Regions from separate parts of the Homo sapiens genome. Here region 2 is linked to region 1. The links come from fine-mapping of genetic effects on gene expression. A gene starts in region 1. The other region holds a variant in brackets. All regions are shown on one strand. Distances are between the middles of the regions. Region 1 holds the start of NEDD8 (NEDD8 ubiquitin like modifier). Region 2 holds the start of REC8 (REC8 meiotic recombination protein).

The links.
Region 2: its variant is fine-mapped to the expression of NEDD8 in whole blood (INTERVAL, PIP 0.95).

Annotation. Positions count from the first base shown.
Region 1 is chr14:24,227,202-24,235,505 of GRCh38, reverse strand. It overlaps NEDD8 (NEDD8 ubiquitin like modifier), which reads left to right and starts at 3,139. Exons shown (of 4, transcript NM_006156.3): 1 at 3,139-3,256. The coding sequence starts at 3,239. It overlaps NEDD8-MDP1 (NEDD8-MDP1 readthrough), which reads left to right and starts at 3,139. Exons shown (of 7, transcript NM_001199823.3): 1 at 3,139-3,256. The coding sequence starts at 3,239. It overlaps GMPR2 (guanosine monophosphate reductase 2), which reads right to left and starts at 2,577. Exons shown (of 10, transcript NM_001002002.3): 1 at 2,529-2,577; 2 at 2,166-2,287; 3 at 1,908-2,027. The coding sequence starts at 2,252. RefSeq lists enhancers at 2,949-3,243, 2,410-3,275.
Region 2 is chr14:24,164,882-24,173,207 of GRCh38, reverse strand. It overlaps IRF9 (interferon regulatory factor 9), which reads right to left. Exons shown (of 9, transcript NM_006084.5): 7 at 8,253-8,326; 8 at 7,246-7,361; 9 at 6,643-7,086. The coding sequence ends at 7,012. REC8 (REC8 meiotic recombination protein) reads right to left here and starts at 1,128. Exons shown (of 19, transcript NM_001048205.2): 1 at 600-1,128; 2 at 427-495; 3 at 167-309; 4 at 10-82. The coding sequence starts at 655. RefSeq lists enhancers at 898-1,147, 1,216-1,716 and a silencer at 1,318-1,367. The variant G/A (reference allele first, on the strand shown) is at 3,862.

The DNA of each region.
Region 1 (8,304 bases):
GATCTGGGTTGGATTTCATCTGCCAGCACATTCACTGCTTCTGACTTAAAAGGTGACAAGCTGCTGGTGCAGTGGGACAGGCAGCAGACATGAAAGAACCATGAAGAAGCTGGATGGAGCCTGTGTTTCTCTGCACTGACTCAGCCCCTCCTCCTAAGGTAACCTAGTACTAAACTATTTTTGGTTATGTTCTCGTTCATTTACCAGCAGTAATTCAGTAGATCTGGATGCTCACCAAAGGTAATGCCTTAAGGTTGATAAGAGCTGATAAGGGGCTACCCTACCCTGTCTCCATCTCTAGTGGAAAAAAGGACAAATTTCCTAGTTGGGGACATGGATCAAGCTAAAAAATCTGTTTCATTCAGTCCATTTTAATAAAGTTCAAGGACATAATGACTCATCAAACTCATATTCTCTAGCTCAACAGATTGCAAACAATATCCCAATACTTTGAGGAAGGCATTCAAAGGCCATTGTGTATGCTGGTGTTTGTGCCTTACATGTCTACATGCAAACAGACAAGAGACAGCAGTTGGCTGAAACAGCACAAATCTTGCAACTAACAAGAAACCCAAGGAAGTCATGTATTAGCTAGCAACAAGTGCTCTACATACGTACTCAGAGATCAACAATATCTAGCTAAAGCTGGTATTGAATTCTGCTTTCTCAACAACTCTATCATCAACATACTGATAAGCAAAGAAAAGTCACCATAGGATAGGAAGTCAGCAGATGTTGGAGATATACTGGCAGAGTGTGGCATGATGAGCACATCAGATTACATACCAAACTTAGAAAAAGATGTTTGCTTGCATCCAACCTTTTTATTACAGTAAGACTTGGCTCTTATCTCTAAAACCTGATTTCTTTACCTCTCGTCAGCAATACTGAAAGCCAGGCTCCACATAAAGCATCAAGACAGTCCCCAAAAAGGTTCATGTATTACAGCACGCCTGTTAACTCTGCAGTCAGAGTCACCAATTCTGAACTCTACTGGTCAGGGCAGATGGACAGTGGGCAACAGAAAGATTCCTAAGCAGTTACTGAATGGCAATAAAAATAAAGTAAAAATAAAACTGCATAACTATCAACCTTAAAGAAATGACAAGACATTCCACAAAGACACAGCAATCAAAAATAGAAAAAGGATATGAAGTCCTTAAGACTAATGGAGCCACAAACAATAGCAGAATTCATCAACCAGGGCTACATGGATCAACCAGCAGAGTGCATATGTTCTCAAAGTGCCCAGATAACTCTCTACCTTCTCAGCAACAAGTATAGAGGCAGGTAATAGTACTGACAGGAGCAGCATCTTCCATTTCAAAGTGAACAACTTGTATATAAGAAAAACACATCCCATTTGGGGCACATCCCAGAAACTCCCAGGAACCTAGGACTTAAAGAAGAGGAAGATTAAAAAAAGAATGGCAGAAGTATTCTTTTATTAATGAATTGTTCTTATTAAAGAAAATTAATAAGCTGCTTCTCCTAGGATCTTCTAGTTAGGATTTTTGAATGCTTAAACTGTAGTTTCTGGACTAAAACAGTGAATGCTTAATGTGGACAATCGCATAACTGAAGGGATGCATGTGACTGTGAGGGGGTGACCTGGGTGGTGGGAAAAGTTGGCAAGGTGTACAAACTGCTAAACAGGACAAAAGGGAAAATTCTGTTCATATATCAGAAATATCGGAGCAGAACTTAGCTTTGAATCTCACTAATTCAGATGGCCTTTTGAACTTATCAGATAAAGGGCTTCAGTAGTGGAAAAAACCGTAAATCAGAGCATCCTGACTGCTAACTGCCAGAGAACTGACTGGGCATGGGGGTGGGGATGCAAACACCTCTGCAGTCAGCTGGGCTAACTGGACACCAATAGGGATGGGGCATGAGGAAAGCCCTACCTTACAGAGAACCTTGGCCATCTCAAAGGTGCCCACAGTATCCATATTGGCAGCAATGATGGGAACCCCAGAGTATGTCTGCTTTGAGTTCCGAAATGAAAAGGATCTTGTGAGATCCACCTGCAGATATGAACAGGAAATTGACCATTTCATTAATCCAAAAAACGTACCATATTAGGACAAGGACAGGCATCTTTCTTGGTTGTGGCCCACCGGGAGCGTGGGGTCAAGAAACAGCAAGTAGAGAAGCTTGCTCACCTCACTTCGAGACTTAAGGGTACTGCGTTTGGGCCTCAAAAGGACATCCTTGAAGTCCAGTTTCACATCGTTGTCAATATGAGGCATGGCGCTTAGCCTCGGGGTAGCGATGAATCTGAGGGCTGGAAGGCAGGAAGTCATAAGGACCAATCTTCCCCTGGGCTTTAACGCCCTGTTACGGCTGGTGGCCTCTCTTCGCTTAAGTTGTGGAAGGTCGGGCAAAGGCCGAAGTGTGGTCCCTGAAGCCTGTCACCTCGACCCATCCCGTGGCTGCGATTACCCTAGGGCTCCATCCCAGGTACTGTTTGTTGGGGAGGAGAGCTGGGAAAGGGTTGTGAGAGACCCTGACGGTGCATTCCTTACCCCGCTACACTTCCTTCTTCTACCCCTGCAAAGAGCAATGGGGCAAGAGGCTGATTTAGGGGAACGAAGGAATGTTGGCGACGGGGGGCGGGGAGGGTTCATAACTAGTTTCCGGAATAGAGGTACTCACTTCCTGTTGCCTTGGTCCAGGCGGCAGTTGACCAAAGACCACCTTGCTTAGCAACTAACCTCGTGCAATCCCGCTAAGCCTTCTGGGCCACGCCAACAGGTTCCTCTAGTTGCCGGCGAGAACTACTAGCCGACGAATTCCAGCTTCGGCGGCGGCAGGGCGAGGCCTTCTGGATAACAGAGTTCACGCACTGAGGTTGCTGTTGGATCCGAGGGGGTTAGACTACAACTCCCAGGGGGAAACGGGCGGGACCGCCTCCTGGCACGATGGGAGATGTAGTTCGTTCTGCCCCCACTTTTCGCTAGCCCGGGCTCGCCAGGGACTCTCAGAATCGCAGAGTCGTCATCTCTGCTGTTGCTAAACTGGATGCCTCATTCCAATTTACGACGTCACTGAACCGAAACGCGGGAGCAACCCTGAGCCTTTCCGGAACCCAGTGGGGGGGGGGGGGGGGGTGGAGCCAGACAGTGACCCGGAAGTAGAAGTGGCCCTTGCAGGCAAGAGTGCTGGAGGGCGGCAGCGGCGACCGGAGCGGTAGGAGCAGCAATTTATCCGTGTGCAGCCCCAAACTGGAAAGAAGATGCTAATTAAAGTGAAGGTGGGAGCACCTCCAGCCTTGCCAAGACGCAGTAGTACTGGGCTGGCAGCAGTGCCTTACGGGAGACGTGGGGAAGGAAAACCACGCCTTTCCCTAGCCTGGAGGACGCTGACTGCCTCAGGGCTCCGCGCGAGGGGTGGTGGGAAATAGGGGGACCCAGAAGGGCTTTGAGAGCGGGGCCCAGGTCCCACCTGACGACCCTGGGGTATTTTGCCATGCCTGCTTTTTTGCCAGGACTGTGCTATCACCCAGAATGGGGTCGCTTTTGTCGGGTCTCACTGTATTCGAACCCCCGCAGTCATAGAGAAGGCCTAGCAGCGGCTTGACTCCCCCGTCTCTCAGATTCTTGGAGTAAGCGCTGCTCTCCATTCTTCATTCCCAGGGTACCTGCTTCTCCCAGTCCCTAACGTAGGTCGCCTCCGAGCACAGCCCTAAAATCGGGGCCTCCCAAGGGCTAGACTATGAGCCTTTACTGGTGGTTGCCAAGGTGTGGTATCTCACCCGTCCTACAGGAACCAAAGCGGGGAGTGTGTTCAGTCAGTACCTGCCTTTCTGAGCCTGGCATCCTGGACCAGCCTCACTTCCTTGGCTGAGGCAGGTTAGTTACCGCTGCCCTAGTTCTTGCTACTAGCCATGGTTTCCTTCATCTGCATCTCTCAACTCCCGTGGTGGTTCTTCACCAATTTCCAGCCCTCGTTAGTCCTATCTGCTGTTTCCTCTTTTGTGCCTTCAGACAGACAGAGACCCCCCCCCCCACGCCCCCCTCAAAAAAACAAAACTGCTGACAAGTGAAGTCTAATGCTAGTTTGGCCTTTTTGTAGCTAAGTAAATCTATCGTTATTTCATCAGCTTCTTAGCATATTTACCGTACATAATAGTCATTCTTAACCTTCTCTTCCCCAGTCCTTCCAAACTACTTCTTAGCTAAGATTTGAGGTCTAGTATTAAAATAGTATGTTAAAGATGATTTTTTTTAACGTTGAGTAGCGGCCTATATAAGAGTCGTAACATCAATTTAATAGGTGAATGGGTCACTGGCGCCATTAAAAAGAGAAAATAGGCTGGGCGCGGTGGCTCACGCCTGTAATCCCAGCACTTTGGAAGGCCGAGGCAGGCCGATCGCTTGAGCCCAGGAGTTGGAGACCATCCTGGGCAACATGGCGAAACCCTGCCTGTACAATAAATTCAAAAAATTAGCCAAGGGTCTGGGCGCATGCCTGTAGGCCCAGCTATTCGGGAGGCCGAGATGGGAGGATTGATTGATCCTGGGATGTCGAAGCCGCGGTGAGCAGTGATGGCACCACTGCACTCCAGACCCTGCCTGAAAAAAAAGGCCGGGCCCAGTGGCTCACGCCTGTAATCCCAGCACTTTGGGAGGCCGAGGTGGGTGGATCACCTAAGGTGAGGAGTTCAAGACCAGCCTGGCCAACATGGTGAAACCCCGCCTCTACTAACAATACAAAAACTAGCCGGGCGTGGTGGTGGGCGCCTATAATCCCAGCTACTCGGAGGCTAAGGCAGGAGAATCCCTTGAACCTGGGAGGCGGAGATTGCAGTGAGCTGAGATGGCGCCATTGCACTCCAGCCTGGGCGACAAGAGTGAAACTCCATCTCCCCCTGCAAAAAAAAAAAAGAAAGAGAGAGGGGGAGAAAATAGGAAATAATATAGTGCTAGGTAAGGATATTGTTTTATGATTTTTTTTTTTTTTTTTTTTGAGACAGAGTCTCGCTCTGTCGCCCAGGCTGGAGTGCAGTGGCGCCATCTCGGCTCACTGCAAGCTTCGCCTCCCGGGTTCATGCCATTCTCCTGCCTCAGCCTCCCGAGTAGCTGGGACTACAGGCGCCTGCCACCACGCCCAGCTAATTTTTTTGTATTTTTAGTAGAGACAGGGTTTCACCATGTTAGCCAGGATGGTCTCGATCTCCTGACCTCGTGATCCGCCCGCCTCTGCCTCCCAAAGTGCTGGGATTACAGGTGTGAGCCACCCTCCCCCGTGCCTGGCCTTTTTTTTTTTTTTTTTTTTTTTTTTTGAGACAGAGTCTCACTCTGTTGCCAGGCCTGAAATTTTTTATTTTATTTTATATGTATATTACACAGGGGGTGTTACTAGTTCATACTAATTTTTAGAATGGATCACTGTCAAAATCTTGAGAAACACTAACTGTTGAATATTTTTATTTGAGACGGAGTCTCCCTCTGTCACCAGGCTGGAGTGCAGTGGCGCAATGTCGGCTCACTGCAACCTCCGCCTCCCGGGTTCAAGCGATTCTCCTGCCTCAGCTTCCTGACTAGCTGGGACTACAGGGTGTGCCACCACGCCCAGCTAATTTTTGTATTTTTAGTAGAAACGGGGTTTCACCAGGTTGGCCAGGATGGTATCGATCTCTTGACCTAGTGATCCGCTCACCTCCGCCTAAAGTGTTGAGATTACAGTCATGAGCCACCGCGCCCGGCCTGTTGAATACTTCTGTTGGCTTTTCAATGCATATGGGTTCTCATGTCCACTAGGTCCAAAGAAGTTAAGTTACTAATGCTAAGTGTTTTGTACACTTTTTGAAAATTTCACTCCACATTAAGAAATTTTATGTCACAACCCATAAGGCACAAAAACTTTGCTATTTGTGATATGCTCTCAGACTTTCAATTCTAAGTTGATTTCATAACCCACTGATGGGTTGAGACCTGCCCACTGATGGGTTGAGACCTGCAGTTTAAAAAGTACTGTTTGAAAGGCCAGGCGTGGTGGCTCACGCCTGTAATCCCAGCACTTTGGGAGGCCAAGGCGGGCGGATCACGAGGTCAGGAGTTCAAGACCAGCCTGGCCAACATGGTGAAACCCCGTCTCTACTAAAAATACAAAAATTAGCCGAGTGTGGTGGCACACACCTGTAGTCCCAGCCACTTGACAGGGTGAGGCAGGAGAATTGCTTGAACCTGGGAGGCAGAGGTTGCAGTGAGCCAAGATCGTGCCATTGCACTCCAGCCTGGGCAACAGAGTGAGACTGTCTCAAAAAATAAATAAATAAAATAACTGTTTGAACAAAAAAATCAATGCTGTGTGTGGAAACTTGAAAATACAGTGTCCTATCACCTGTGGTCTTGCTAAAATGCTGATTATGATTCTGTGGGTCTAAGGTGGGGCACAGGTTTCTGCATTTCTCACAAACTCCCAGGTGATATTGAATGTCTGAGAGCTACACTTTGAATAGCAAGATTCTAGATTTTTTCTGTTTCTTTGAATCCATATTTATGTGGTACTTCTCTAAAATTGCCAGTCTTCTTTCCTGCAACACCCTTCTGCCTTCAAACAGGCCTCTGTGCCCCATCTCTCTCTATCTCCCCCTCTCGCCCCATCCCCTCTTGTTTGTTGCATTTCTTAATTAAATACATAGGAAAGTAGTTACACATGAGATAGCTGTTAATCTGATCTGAAGAAAATATTAATTTAAAAAAGAAAAAAAAGAGCTGTTAATTACCATATAAGTGACATTTTTTATTACAGTTCCTTTTTTTTTTTTTTTTTTTTTTTGAGACAGGTTCTCACTCTGTCGCCCAGGCTTAGGGTGCAGTGGTGCCATCACAGCTTACTGCAGCCTCGACCTCTCAGGCCCAAGCAATTCTCCCATCTGAGCCTCCTGAGTAGCTGGGACTACAGGCGTGTGCTACCACCATACCCAGCCAATTGTTTTATTTTTTTGTAGAGATGCGGTCTCATCGTGTTGCCCACGCTAGTCTAAAACTTCTGGGGTCAAGTGATCTTCCCACCTCATCTTCCTAAAGTGCTGGGATTACAGCCGTGAGCTACCATATCTGACCCCTTTTTGAATTATTATTATTTTTGTTTTGTTTTGCTTTTGAGATGGAGTCTCACTCTGTCGCCCAGGCTGGAGTACAGTGGCACGATCTTGGCTCATTGCAACCTCCGCCTCTTGGGTTCAAGCGATGCTCCTGCCTCAGCCTCCCAAGTAGCTGGGACTACAAGTGCCCACCACCATACCCGGCTAACTTTTGTATTTTAGTAGAGACGGGGTTTCGCCATGTTTGCCAGGCTGGTCTTGAACGCCTGACCTGAGGTGATCCACCCACCTCAGCCTCCCAAAGTGCTGGGATTACAGGCATGAGCCACCGCGCCTGGCCTCATTTTGTTTTTGTTTTGAGACATTCTTACTCTGTCACCCAGGCTGGAGTGCAGTGGTATGATCTCGGCTCACTGCAACCTCCACCTCCCAGGCTCAAGGGATCCTCCCAACTCAGCCTCCCAAGTAGCTGGGACTACAGGTACATGCCACCACACCTGGCTGATTTTCTGTATTTTTAGTAGAGGTGGGGTTTCACCATGTTGCCCAGGCTGGTCTTGAACTCCTGAGCTCAAGTGATCCACCTGCCTTGGCCTCCCGAAGTGCTGGGATTACAGGCGTGAGCCACCATGCCCAGCCGAATGATTCATTTTCAACTGCTGTCTCTGTGTAGCTGACTTCTTCCATATTTTTCTATAAGATTTTACAATTAAATTCTTCCTGATTTAAATCTTGTTACCTTGTCTCTATGGTTCTAAAATTAAATGCATCATCTTCTGTCATAAGCCATATCCCAATACCCATCTCGTGTATTAATCCCATCAATCATTCAGGTGTCTGGAATACAATTCTTTAGAGTCATTTAAAATTACGTGGTCCTTTTATAAGATCTAATTTTTCACTTAAAAGCTCTTTCTGTTTGATTTTTGTTTCCATCTCCATTACCCTCATTCTGGTCTCGGGTCTTACTCATTTATATGTTTATGTCTCTGTAATACATCCAACCAGGTTTTCCTACCGTCATATCCCCTCTAAAGTGTAGTCTAAACCAAGACATGACGTACAAAACCATAATGTGCAGGTCTTCCTTTAGCTTCTTTTTCATTATATTACTCCCTAACCCCAGATCCTTCATTGATTTCCTCATTGCAGATTACTTTGGCAACTGTCTTTACTGTGTGAATCAGTTTTCTCATTCATGTTTTTTAACATACAGTAAAATGCACAGTTCTTAAGGGTTTAGTTCAGTG
Region 2 (8,326 bases), 62 kb after region 1:
CACACTCACAGCTCAGTCTCCATATCTATTCGGATCTGCAGCTGGGCACGGTGGAGGCGCTCCAAGATGTGCTGGATGTCCTCTGTGGGCAGGGAGGACGAGGTAGACAGCCAGCTTAGCAGACAGCTGCTCAGCCCGCCCCACCTTTGAGGGTTCCCAGCCTTACCCACGAGGTACTGGCATTGTTGAGAATAGACGCGGATCACACCGATCTGAAGTTGGGCTGAGAGATAGAGGGAGAAGCGGGGCCGCGGCAGGCCGGGCTGCGGGGGTTGCACTCGTACCAGCACGTAATTGAGGATTTCCTCGCTGGGGAACAATGCGCCCTGATTACCGCTGCGTCCAGGAGTGGGCCCACAGTCTTGGCCACCCCATCCCCTAACTCACCCCCCGCACCAGGCCCTCCTTCCCTTTTCTGGGCCTTACCAGGTTTTCACCACATTCACCCTCAGGTATTCGCGCTTCACCAACCGGCTGCCGCGAGTCGCCGCCAGCCTGAAGTGGGTGGGGAAGGTGGGAGAATGGGGATGGAGGGGGAGCTGTCAGGCTGGGATCCCGGGCAGCGTCCGCCATCGCGCGCCAACGGGCCCCGCCCTTACCAGATGGTGGCAAAGCAGCCGGTGTGGCGCTGAAGCACGTTGGGATAGTAGAACATTGTCCCTCTGGTCTTTCACCCTCGATTCCACCAGATCCCCGTTCGGATCTGAGTCGGAATTCTTTAGGGCACAGAATTCCCAACACCTTGGAGAGAAGTCAGGATTTGGACTTCTCTGGTGGCAAGGTGGGTGCACCTAGAAAGCCAAGTTAATGAGGCAACGAACAATGGGCAGATACACAATTACCAGGATAACTGAGACGCAGGAGATGGGCGCCCCTCTCTGTGGACCCTCAGTGGATCCGCACGCCACGTGATGCGTCAAACTTGAGACTTCTGGGTTGGGTTCCAGGTTGGAGATGCAGAGCTCCAAGGGGACGTCCGGGCCGGAATCCAGAGCAGGTCCCGAGGGAGCACGGTGTCCTCCACAGCAGGCCTCGGTCCTCGAGCGCTGGGAGCGATGTCAGGCCCCTGGGCCTTGCACTGGCTTGGGCGGCCGCGGTGTGGCCCCGGGCCGCCTACTGCAGGACTAGATCGCACCGCGGGAAGCGAGCGCTTCGGGGCACCGCACCTCGCTCCTCATTAGATGGCGGCTTTTGCCCTGACAGCCAATGGGGAACGGGGGTCGGGTCGGGAACGCCAAGTATCCTGGCAACAGGGTCTCCCGAGGCAGCCAGCAAACCAATCATAAGGATTTTGCGCGCCGCTGGGGTCCATTGTGAGGTGTTCCGACCAATGGGCTCCGGTTCTCGCCTCTAGTAACAGGCGCCCCTTCCTTGACCAATGAGCGCATCCCCGTCGCTCCCCCGCCGCTCCCCCGCCGCAAGCCTGGCAACAAGGGCGCCTCAATTGGTAGGGGAGGTCGGGTCACCTCGGGGGCAACTGTACTGGGCCTCTTCCGGGTGCCAAGATGTACCTTGCACGGCGCCTGACCTGAGGTTAGACCCCGCCCTTCCCCCAATCCACAAACTCCGACTTTGTTTCCAACTAGGGCGTGTCGTGTGCTGCAGAGGAAGAAAGATGTGAGATGAGGCCGGGCGCAGTGGCTCACGCCTGTAATCCTAGCACTTTGGGAGGCCGAGGCGGGCGGATCATGAGGTTAGGAGTTCGAGTCCAGCCTGACCAATATGGTGAAACCCCGTCTCTATTAAAAATGCAAAAGTTAGCTGGGCGTGGTGGCACGCGCCTGTAATCCCAGCTACTCAGGAGGCTGAGGCAGGAGAATGCTTGAACCTGGGAGGCGGAGGTTGCAGTGAGCCGAGATCATGCAGCTCCACTCCAACCTGGGCAAGGGAGCAAGACTCCGTCTCAAAAAAAAAAAAAAAAAAAAAGGCTGTGAGATGATGGCCTTGGAGCCACCACAGGTCAATGAGGAAGAAGTCCATTTTTTTTTTTTTTGATGGCCTTGGAGCCACCACAGGTCAATGAGGAAGAAGTCCATTTTTTTTTTTTTTTTTTGAGATGGAGGCTCTCACTGTTGCCCAGGCTGGAATGCAGTGGCGCTATCTCGGCAATCTCGGCTCACTGCATCCTCTGCCCCCCATCCCCTCAGGTTCAAGCGATTCTCGTGTCTTGGCCTCCTGAGTAGCTGGGATTACAGGCGCCCTCCATCACACCCAACTAATTTTTGCATTTTTAGAAGAGACGGGATTTCACTATGTTGGCCAGGCTGGTTTCTTTTTTTTTTGAGATGGAGTTTCACTCTGTCACCCAGGCTGGAGTGCAGTGGCGCAGTCTCAGCTCATTGCAGCCTCCGCCTCCCCGGTGCAGGGGATTCTCCTGCCTCAGGCTCCCGAGTAGCTGGGATTACAGGCGCCCACCACCACACCTGGCTAAATTTTGTATTTTTTAGTAGAGACAGGGGTTTCACCATGTTGGCCAGGCTGGTCTCGAACTCCTGACCTCAGGTGATCCGCCCGCCTTGGCCTCCCAAAGTGCTGGGATTACAGGCGTGAGCCACTGCCCCCAGCTGAAGAAGTCAATCTTACACGAAACTCCGAAAGGACTTACTGGGGTCACTTCCTAAATCTGAACAACTTAGGTTATGGGCACGCCACGTGTGGTCCTTTCCCAGCTGTCAGTGTTCTCCCGGCTGAAATAGACTTTAGCATTTTTGGATGCAGCACAACTTCCTAGCCTGGAAAAGCCATATTCTCAACAATTATTGTGTAAATTTAAGAGGTACAGTTGTAATAATAACCCTTGTCCCTATGCCTCCTACCTTTGCACAGCCATTTCTTTGGCCTAGAATGTCCTTCTCTGCCTTGACTCCAGAGCATGCTTCTTCCTGAGACTTATATCTTACTGCAGCTGAGCTGACCCTATCTTCTTACAGTCCCCTTCAATTTGAGAGTTTTTTTTTTTTTTTTTTTTTTTTTTTTCTGAGATGGAATTTTGCTTGTCGCCCAGGCTGGAGTGCAATGGACCATCTTGGCTCAGTGCAACCTCCGCCTCCTGGGTTCAAGCAATTCTCCTACCTAAGCCTCCTGAGTAGCTGGGACTACAGGCATGTGCCACTATGCCTGGCTAATTTTTTTGTATTTTTAGTAGAGACAGGGTTTCAACCATGTTGGCCAGGCTGGTCTCAAACTCCTGACCTCAGGTGACACCCGCCTCGGCCTCTCAAATTACATGCCTATAGTCACAGCTACTCAGAAGGCTGAGACAGGAGGATCGATTGAGCCGAAGGTCGAGGCTGCAGTGAGCCATGATTGCACTGCTGTGCTCCAGCATGGGCGATTCTGTCAAAAAAAAAAAAAAAAAGAAAGAAAGAAAAAAAGAAATACATGAAGTGGCCGTAAGTGCTATGAAGAAAATGAGGCAGCATAGGAGGATAGAATAATGACGGCTGCTATTTAGGGAGGGTACTCAGGGAAGCCTTGCCCCCTCTCTTAAGAGATAAAATTTGAAGAATGTGGGTAAGTCATGTGCCTACCTGAAGGAAGAGTAATTTAGACAAAAGAACCAGCAAATGCAAAGACCCTGAGGTAGAAATGTGTTTGGTGGGTTCAAGGAGCCTGGAGCAAAGTGACAGGGGAAGAATGGCAAGGGGCGAGAGAGAGAGAGAGAGGAGGGTAGGGTCGCATCACAGGACCTCAGAGGTCCTTATGGGGATTTGGGCTTTTACCCTGGGTGATTTGGGACCCACTGGAAGGTTCTGAGCAGAGGAGTGACATGATCAGAATTACATGTGAAAAGAATCTCTACTGTGTTGAGAATAGCTTAAGGTAGACACGTGTGGAAACAGATGTGAAGGAAGCAGAGGA[G/A]GAGACATGAGAGATGGTGGTAGTTTGTTCCAAAGTGTTGCTGATGGGAACAGAGAGAAGTGGTCAGACCCTGGATACATATTGAAGGAATAGCGAGCGACAGGATTTGCTGATGAATTGGATGTGGGGTATGATAGAAAACGGAAGGAGGCCAGGTATAGTAGCTCACACCTGTAATCCCAGCACTTTAGGAGGTCAAGTAGTTGGGACTATAGGCACACACCACCACACCTGGCTTTTTTTTTTCCCCCACTTTTTTTTTTTGAGATGGAGTTTCGCTCTTGATGCCCAGGCTTGGAATGCAATGGCACGATCTTGGCTCACTGCAACCTCTGCCTCCTGGGTTCAAGTGATTCTCCTGCCTCAGCCTCCCAAGTAGCTGGGATTATAGGCATGTGCCACCATGCCCAGCTGATTTTTTTTATATTTTTAGTAGAGATGGGGTTTCACCATGTTGGTCAGGCTGGTCTCGAACTTCTGACCTCAAGTGATCCACCCACCTGGGCCTTCCAAAGTGCAAGGATTACAGGTGTGAGCCACCATGCCTGGCCTCACCTGGCTAATTTTTAAGAATTTTTGGGAGCCAGGTGCAGTGGCTCACGCCTGTAATCCCAGCACTTTGGGAAGCTGAGGTGGGCAGATCACCTGAAGTCAGGAGTTCGAGACCAGCCTAGCCAACATGGTGAAACCCTGTCTCTACTAAAAATACAAAAATTAGCCTGGCATAGCGGTGCGCACCTGTAATCCCAGATACTCAGAAGGCTGAGGCAGGAGGATCACTTGAACCCAGGAGGTGGAGGTTGCAGTGAGCCAAGATTGCACTACTGCACTCCAGCCTGGGCAACAGAGTGAGACTCTGTCTCAAAAAAAAAAAAAAGAATTTTTTGTAGAAGTAGGGTTTCACTATGTCACCCAGGCTAGTCTCAAACTCCTGGGCTAAGGCAGTCTTCTCACTTCGATCTCCCAAAGTGCCAGGATTACAGACATAAACCACCACGCCCAGCCGAAAAAAAAAATTTTTTTTTTTTGAGATGGAGTTTTGCTCTTTTTGCCCAGGCTCGAGTGCAGTGGTGCAATCTCGGCTCACTGCAACCTCCGCCTCCTGGGTTTAAGCGATTCTCCTGCCTCAGGCTCCCAAGTAGCTGGGATTACAGGTGTCCACCAACACGCCTGGCTAATTTTTTGCATTTTTAGTAGAGACGGGGTTTCACCATGTTGGCCAGGCTGGTCTCGAACTCCTGACGTCAGGTGATCCACCCACCTCGGCCTCTCAAATTACTGGGATTCCAGGTGTGAGCCACAATGCCCAGCCAAGTTTTTGTTTTTAATCAAAATAATTAAAATAAAATGGAAGTCAAGGAGATAATTTAGACCTTGTACAAAGAAGGTCCAGGAAGGATTTCATCACATTGCATCACATTGAGGGCACAACAGGGTTTGTACACCTCTGCATTCAGTACCTCATTTCTTCACTGCTAGTGCAGAGAATGTCTAGGTGCTTGGCTTCCCAGTGGGATGATGGACAAGACTGAAGGGAAGAAGGGAGGTCCATGGAGGCAGGGAGGCTCAAAGGCAGCACTGAAGCTTGTCAAATGAGGCAGCAAGAAGGTCCTAGGAAGACTTAGGCATCCAGATTTGATCATGTGTGTGAACCATTGAGGGCTGAAGGGTGAAATGACAGAAGGAAGTCTGGAAAGCTAAGCTGGTGTCATATGCAGGAAGAAGGAAGCTGAAGGCTGTGGCCTGGGTTGGAACTAGTTTGCTGGAAGTGAGTGTACAAAAAAGTAGGTGACAAGTGGCCTTGTGGTGAAGGAAAAACTTCCAGTTTCGTAGTAAAATGAACATGGGGGAAAGAAGAGTGTCAGCCAATTTGGAGCCCTCAAGTCTCATGAACAGCATGACATGGCAGTCTAGGCCGGAGTGCTTTTTTTTTTTTTCTTTTTTAATCTTGAGACAGAGTCTCGCTCTTGTTGCCCAGGCTGGAGTACAATAGCACGATCTTGGCTCACTGCAACCTCCGCCTCCCGGGTTCAAGCGATTCTCCTGCCTCAGCCTCCCAAGTAGCTGAGATTACAGGTGCCCGCCACCAGGCCTGGCTAATTTTTGTATTTTTAGAAGAGACGCTGTTTCACCGTGTTGGCCAGGCTGGTCTCGAACTCCTGATCTCAAGTGATCCACCCACCTTGGCCTCCCAAAGTGCTGGGATTATAGGTGTGAGCCACTGCGCCCAGCCGGCCAGAGTGTCTTTTATGGGGCTTAGATAGAGCAAGGAATCCAGTTTGGGAGTACCCTGCTGGGGTGACAGTGAAATTGTGCTGGAGGAAGAGGTGCCAGTAACAGCAGGTACAGTTTCAGCAACTCTTCTCTCTGACTCCTCTGTTCTCAGGTCCCAGGGCCTCTAGACCATAGTTTCAGGTCACCCTCAAGTGTCTCCTCTTCATTTAGACCTCCAATCTAACTAACCTCAGGCCCGATGTTGGGGCCTTCTAGCAAGAACTGTGGAGCCCAGACTTTACCATGTGAAGTTGGTGGCTATAGTGCCTGGCTGAAGGCTTGGTGCCCAACCCACACCCTAATCTTATCTGCCCAGAGGGTACCTCTGTAGAGTGCCAGGCCCAGGACCCACAGGGCCCAGGCAGCATCTTAGCCAGAACCTGTGGGCAGAGGAGAGGAAAGAGGCTGGAGATGTCAGCAGGAAGAGAACCCCAGTGCCCCACTCTTAAGTTTACATCTCTATCTGTGACCACTGCTACCTTCTTCTCCCAGAAAATCAGATACTGATTCCTCTTTCAATAAAATTTTATTTTAAGTCCTTAGTGAATATCTAAGAGGAAAATATAAAGTGCTTGGCTTTAGAGTTGGGAGGTCAGGGAAGAGGGAAAGGCCCCCTGGGTTCACACCATTTGGAATTTCCTAGTCCCTTACAGATGAAAGAGGGCGTATATCTCAAAATTAAAAAAAAAAAAGGATAAAAAATTAGCCTTGAGTTCTCCACCAGCCAGTGTGTGCGAGGATTTTCAGGACACGATTATCACGGACAACTACTGAGAATTATCACAAAGAGGACAGGTCAATCGTGTGAAGAATGAGTCTACTTCAAAGGAGACAGGAAGAACAAAGAGGTGAGGTGGAAGATGGGTCCCCCAGGCTCTACACCAGGGACAGAATGGCTGCCTGCTGCTCTGGAGTCTGCTCCAGCAAGTATCGGGCAAAGGCCTGCTCCATCTGTATTGGAAGAGATGGAGAAGAGCATCTCAGTGCGTGCATCAGGGACAGACACCACCCCCAGGAGCTCCTTCCCCACTGGGAGACCCCCTTTGCCTCCTGGAGCACCACTGTCTCTGCTCTCATTAGATGGGTACTCTACCCCTGCTCCGAGCTCACCTTCACTGTGATAAGATTCTGTGGAGTATGGCTGGAGCCATGGCTCTCTTCCCAGAAATTCAGTGTTACCTGGAACTTCGGTGGGGGGCCCAGGCCCTGAAAGTACCTGACCAAGTCTGAAAGAGAAAGGGTCAAGGGTTCGAAGAACAAAAAGAAGAGAGAGGGCCACAGGCAGGGAGGCAATAGTGAGGAACCCATGATGGAGAGAGGTAGGAGGGGGTCTTGCCAGAGCAGGAGCTGCAAGGTCAGAAGTACTTGGAACTAAGTGCTACTCACCCATGTGCAAATAGGAAAGGGTGCCCCTGCCTCATATAAGTGCTTAGAAGTAGCAGATCACAGCACAGCCCGACAAGCTCTCTGCTGGGAGAGTTTAGAGTCCTCCCAGGTAGCAGCCCTGGCTGCTAACTCAGATGTGCCCAGACCTTTGCTACTTGCTCACATCCTCCCAGTGCTAGGGCACCCATGGCCCTGGGAACACCCACACTCTGCACCCCCTGTACACCTGGTCCCACTCTTAAGGTCAGGTTTAGAATTGAGTAGGAGCTGGAATTGGATGGGAGAGAAGCGCAACCCTAAGGCATGCCTGGAGTGTGGTAAAGACGGTGCAGCCAGGGCCAGTGTGTGTGATGTGTGCCAGCTCTCCCAAATGTGTGTACGTAGGAGAAGGCCATGAGGCTCAAAATCTCTGTGCCAATTCTTCTGTGCACCTTCACATAGTGACTGCATGCTTCAGTGTGATGGTGTTCTCCAAGATATGACACTCTTGTGCTGGGCTCTACCTGAACCACCTCTTCCATTGTCTTGGCTGGAGGAGAGCTGCCAGGTAGCTGCCAGGCTGGGCATATGGCCACACAGGATATGCAACACACAAGCGCAGGAGTGCCATGCATAGGCTACATGGAGGATCTGCTGGCAGATAGGGAGGTAGCAGGACCCAACAAGTTGGGCCCAGGGGGTACTAAGAGGTAGGGGGTGGAAGCTCATGTGCCCAGAGAGAACAGCCTCACCTCTGCAGAAGTAGGCGGTTCTGAAGAGCTCCACGCACTCGTTGCTGGGCAGCAGATGCGGGCCTGGCCCAGGT